Linked DNA regions of Homo sapiens: region 1 is linked to region 2. Evidence: fine-mapped expression QTL. A gene starts in region 2. The other region holds a variant in brackets. All regions are shown on one strand. Distances are from middle to middle. Region 1 overlaps FRMD4B (FERM domain containing 4B). Region 2 holds the start of FRMD4B (FERM domain containing 4B).

Evidence for each region. PIP is the estimated chance that this variant, and not a neighbour inherited with it, causes the effect.
Region 1: its variant is fine-mapped to the expression of FRMD4B in whole blood (TOPMed, PIP above 0.99).

Annotation. Positions count from the first base shown.
Region 1 is chr3:69,354,200-69,357,114 of GRCh38, reverse strand. All of the region lies in intron 1 of FRMD4B (FERM domain containing 4B), which reads left to right. Among named protein-coding and RNA genes, the nearest start is that of FRMD4B, 30 kb to the left of the region's middle. The variant G/T (reference allele first, on the strand shown) is at 1,694.
Region 2 is chr3:69,384,528-69,387,442 of GRCh38, reverse strand. FRMD4B (FERM domain containing 4B) reads left to right here and starts at 1,355. Exons shown (of 23, transcript NM_015123.3): 1 at 1,355-1,615. The coding sequence starts at 1,454. RefSeq lists an enhancer at 1,278-1,888.

The DNA.
Region 1 (2,915 bases), 30 kb after region 2:
TTTGCACCTAGAGCCCCACCAAACTCTCCAATCCTGTGTTTATAAGCACCCACATTCTTGAACAGTGTTGGTCAGTGGACTAATGGTGTCAGATTCCAATTATCCTTTCTCACACAAACTGACATATTAGATAGGATATTTTTGTTTGCAAATAAAGTTTTGTTTAAAAATCAGAACCAGCTTGAGCAGAAACGGAAATTATAGACTCAGTAACTGAAAAGGCCAGGGAATGACTTCAGGTTCAATGGCATTTCATAATTCAGACAGTGACATTGGAGTATGTCTCTCTCCAACTCTTCTGTCTGGCATGAGGTTTCCTGGTAGCCCCAGATTTTCATCCAAGCAACTTTGTAACTCCAGAACAAACAAAAACAAAGATACTTCTTCTCTGATCCCTATGACTAATGGGTATGGGGTGTATTAGTAAGGGTTCTCTAAAGGGACAGAGTTAATAGGATATTATATATATATGTATATATATTATATATATGTATATATACGTGTGTGTATATATGTATGTGTGTGTGTATATATATATCTATATATAAAGGGGAGTTTATTAAGTATTAACTCACATGATAACAAGGTCCCACAATAGGCCGTCTGCAGGCTGAGGAGCAAGGAGAGCCAGTCCGAGTCCCCAAACTGAAGAACTTGGAGTCTGATATTCCAGGTCAGGAAGCATCCAGCACGAGAGAAAGATGTAGGCTGGGAGGCTAGGCCAGTCTTGTCTTTTCACATTTTTCTGCCTGCTTTATATTCTGGCCACAGCGGCAGCTGATCAGATGGTGCCCACCCACATCACGGGTGGGTCTGCCTTTCCCAGCCCACTGACTTAAATGTTAATCTCCTTTGGCAATACCCTCAGAGGCACACCCAGGATCAATACTTGGCATCCTTCAATCCAATCAAGTTGACACTAAGTATTAACCATCACATGGGGGTAGAGTGATTTTATTGGTCAGTCTTGAATCACATATTCATCTTCTTTATATGGGGATATGGGGTTCCCCCCTACCCCCAGTTATTTGGATGGTGTCCCCAAAGAAAAGCGGGGATCCTGTTTCCTAATTTTTTTTCTTTTTTGAGATGGAATCTTGCTTGCTCTGTCACCCAGGCTGGAGTGCAGTGGTGTGATCTCAGCTCACTGCAACCTCCGGCTCCCAGGTTGAAGCAATTCTCCTGCTTCAGCCTCCCGAGTAGCTGGGAATACAGGTGCCGGCCACCACACCTGGCTAATTTTTGTATTTGTAGTAGAGATGGGGTTACGCCATGTTGGCCAGGCTGGTCTCAAACCCCTTACCTCAGGTGATCTGCCAACCTCAGCCTCCCAAAGTGCTGAGATTACAGGTGTGAGACACTGTGCCCGGCCTCCTAATTTTAATACTCCTGGTAGACTCCATCTCTATGTGTTCTCACACCATAACCTGAGCTTACCCAGCCTCCCCCCTAATTTGGTCTGTCAACCTTCATCTGGCCCTCAAGCTGCCCTGGCCTCCTGGTTTTAGCCTTGCCTAATCTAGCCCAACTTGCTGCTGAAACTGGCTATCAACATTCCGATTGTCCTTCAACAGTGAAAACATTTTTACCATACAATCAGAAATGTCCCACTAGTTCTCTCAGTCGACTCTCCAACCCAGTAAGAAAAGGTACCATGTATTGAGTTTTTACTGTTATATATTAACAAATAGAA[G/T]GTTCTGTCAAATAAAGTAATACAATAATTCCCCACCTTCCAAACAAGAAGACTCAGGCAAATGTTTTGGGTCAACCTATATAAAATTTTAGAAATGTATATGAAATATTAGAAAATTTACTCCTAATATTAGGAGTGCTCATAACACTTGTTATGCAGATTAATAACTGGAGTGATTTCTGCCTTGTGCTCTCCCTCTTGATAGGATAATTTTATTCAGCTTCTTCATGTGCATGTGTGTGCTGGCACTGGAACAAAAGTCCTCTTTGAGTCATCCTTTTATCACAGCGCAGCATCTCCACTTCTGCCCAAGTTGTTTGAGCTATATAGCACTTTTTCAATCTCCATATATGATGCTTTTCTGGGAATATCATTGCCCAGCTTTTTTTTTTTTCCTTTTTCCATTTATCCTACAAGTATATGTGCATGAAATAATGTTTAAGTAACTTGTTTCTTCTAACATCCAACCCGTCCAATTGGGAGGTCACGTGCTCACAAATAATTACTAAATATGTATTAAACTTTTTGCCACCTTTTCTACTGATATCATCAAGTGACTTCTATTTGCATCCAAACTTAGCATTGACTGAAGTTGTTACAGGCTGCCATGTCTTCCCCAGACAGTATATTGTGGTCATAGTAATTAGAGTCTTTAGAAGGATCTGAAGATAAAGCCACTCCCCGGTTTCTGAGGGATTAACATTTTGTGGGGGTAAAGGGAGGTACCCCACCCTATATTTAGATACCTGTGGTATCTCCCAGGCAAATTCTTTGAGCTTTGCATGAACTATCTCTTTTAATTTCCCCAGCACTCCTGAAGGAGATCAGGATTTTTATCTCCATTTTACAAAGGAGGGAACCAATTCTCAGAAAGATCAAGTAACTTTCCCAAGGATATATACAACTGTAAAACACGAGGTTTCTCTGACTCTAGAGAGTCTTAGAGATTTAATCTTATGGTTATATTCTTAACCATACCATACTCCTGAGCAAAATTCCAGACTGTTCTTTTTTTCAGGAGGGAGAAGCATGATACCCTGTCACAAACTTTTACTTAGTCATTCTCTTTTTTTAAAAAAAGTAAATTTATTATTTTTCCAGTATTCTATATGTTTTTCTCTCTGCCTTCAAGCATAATGTATTTTGATTATTTCCTATTCACTGAATGACTTCAATAGTAATGATTTCATTAAATGCAAATAGTGAAATGAATCTTTTCTGA
Region 2 (2,915 bases):
CTTCATACATTCTAAGGGAAAATGGAGGCTGGGCACAATGGGTCATGTCTGTAACGCTAGCACTTTGGGAGGCTGAGGCTGGAAGATTGCTTGAGCCCAGGCATTTGAAACCAGCCTGGGCGACATAGTGAGACCCCATCTCTACAAAAAAAATAATGATAATAAACTTAGCACCTGTAGTCCCCGTGGCTGAGGTGGGAAGATGGATCACTTCATCCCAGGAGTTCAAGGCAGCTGTGAGCTATGATTGAGTCACTGCTCTCCAGCCTGGGCAACAGACCTTGTCTCAAAAATAAATAAAGGAAGACAGAGACTGGTGGTAGGCGAGACTCCTTGAGCTCCCTTTTCCAAATGTTTCCAACAATCAGCATCAATTCCCGAGGGAAAACTTTAATAAATAAATAAATAAGATTAATTATCTAGTGACTTCATGAGTGGTGGAACAGTTTCCTTTGGTTTTGAGGGGAGAATAAACTACCCATGCAGGTTGGTGCTTGCAGGTGAGGTTAGACATGTCCAGAGGCTGAATTTTCCAGAACTAAACCACCGATTCTCTTATGGGCTTCTGTTTCCCAGCACTAGTAACGGCAAGCTATTTACAAGGGACCAAGAACTCTGTTTTTCTCCCTGACTGCTGCATTGGTATTAGCAGCATCTTGGTGTGAGGAAACCTGCCTTCCTGCTGGCAACCACAGGAGGCTGTCATTTTCTCTGAGACCCTCAAGTTAGGAGCAAAGGCAGGTTCTAGGGCCGCCTGTTGCTTTGAGACTGTTGCCTTCATCTCCTGCTTCCAGCAGAACCAAGGAAACATTCGTGGCTATTCCCCCAGGAGTAGGGTCCAAAGGGATGCCTTGGAGATTTTTTTTTTTCTCTCTCTCTCTTCTGCATCTGTGGCTGCCCAGAGGTGTTTTATCAGTGTGAACAGAGCAAGATGAGTAAGGTGTTCCCCGAGGCAGATTAGGAGACCACTCGTCCGGTGTGGGGGGTGTGTGTCTGTGTGTGTGTGTGTTCGCGCGCGCGCAAGACGTGGAAGCCAAGTGTGCTGAAATGCAGCTCCCCTCTCTGCCTGCAAAGAGTTGCTCCGCTTCCGTCCCTGCCCCGCGCCCTGGGGAAGCGCCAGGGGGAGTCCTCGCCGGCCAGGGCTTCCCGTGCCCCGGGAGCATCGAGGGCCAGCTTGGTGGAGCTTAGCACAGCTTGCTCGGCGCTGCGAGCGGGCGGGGGTGGACACTGGGCTTCTGTGTGCCAGTCGCAGCCGTTGGCTGGCGGGCACCCAATCCCAGGGCATGCCGCCGGAGCCTGGCCAGGACGCACGGTGAAAGACGAGTTTGGTGGCAGGCTTGACCCCCCGGCTGCCAGCAGAAGCCGGCGTCGGGAGCCCAGGCGGGCAGGCCGCTGGGGTCGGGGCTGCACGTACGAGAGCCGGGACGCCCGGGTTCAGAGCGAAGGAGGAGGCATGGCTTCGGTGTTCATGTGTGGCGTGGAGGACCTGCTGTTCAGCGGCAGCCGCTTCGTATGGAACTTGACCGTGTCCACGCTGCGGAGATGGTACACGGAGAGGCTGCGGGCTTGCCACCAGGTGCTGCGGACGTGGTGCGGGCTGCAGGACGTGTACCAGGTGAGCTGGAGCGCGCGGCACCCGAGGGCCCCAGCAGGATGCCGGGCACTCGTGGGAAGCAGGCTCCACCTGTATGATTTTATTCCCCCCAGCTCTTCTTAAACTCCTAGCAGACTGCTTGGCCCTTGGGTCAAACGCTCAGCAGCTCTAGGTAATTATTGCTTGACAGAGCTTGTGAATTTTTCAAATCGGGCATGGGGGGCACTTGCGAGATAGTCCCAGCGTTTGCAGACATCTGTTACAGAGCAATGGTGTACTGGCGGGCGCTTGACTAGGGAGGCTGTTGCTTTGCAACAGAGGGTCTTCAGAAAGCCACTTAGACATTCAAATGAGTCCTTCTTTTTAATTTCATTGGGGGTGGGAGTGGCTGCTTCTGAAGCAACGGTTTCACACCAATTTGCTGGCAGAGGGGGCCTTGGTGGATTTTTATCCTTCCGTTGGATTTTCAGTTTTCCATCAGGCAGCCCCAACTTGTAAGGCAGAGCCAGGAAAAGCTGATTCTGTGTCTACTGGCTTTTGGAAGGAAGGACAGCAAATTGTGAACACTTTGCAGGAGGATGACAGGCTGGGGAAGGGAGGGGTGGCCCGGCTACACGTTGGAATGCTCATGTTAGGATTTACTCCCTGTCACACAACACAGCCCCTTTATTTCTCTGCTCGGTCCCATCCTGCAGGCAAAAAATGCAGCAACTTTGCTCAACTAGGAGACCATTCATCCTCTCTGGTACTGCAGTTTGCCTGGATTTCTTTTTTTTTTTTTAGACAGTAATTTATGAATTTAAAAGTTCTGTGCTTTGGTTGTTAATATATTTGAGATTTTTAAAAATCTGCATTGTTTAGAAATATACTTGGTGTCTACTGTGGAAAGATAATATCATATTTTCTTTCCTGTGATGTGGAATAGCTTTGTTGCAGTTCCTGGATTTCCCCCCATTTGACCCTGTTCCTAATATGTCTAGAATTTATGTCTTATTATATTGTGTCTCATACATGATCAAGCACTTGATTTTGACAAACCATAATCTTCCATCAATCAGGCAAAATGAAAAGGCCAGCACCTAAGGTTAGCCTGTGGAAGTCTAAAGAGTCAGCGTCCCCTTGTCACCCTTGTTAAAATATGAGGAACATTTGAACTTGTGCTTTCACTGCTTCTGCTTTGTATAACATATCTGTGATATCTTGCATTTTGAAATGGAATCTGAAAGGCAGGTTGGGAACCAGGGCAGCATGTGGGAGTTTGAGAGTATTAGGGAATTGTGGATATATCCCATCTGGCCACATTACATAGCTCTCTGGCTTT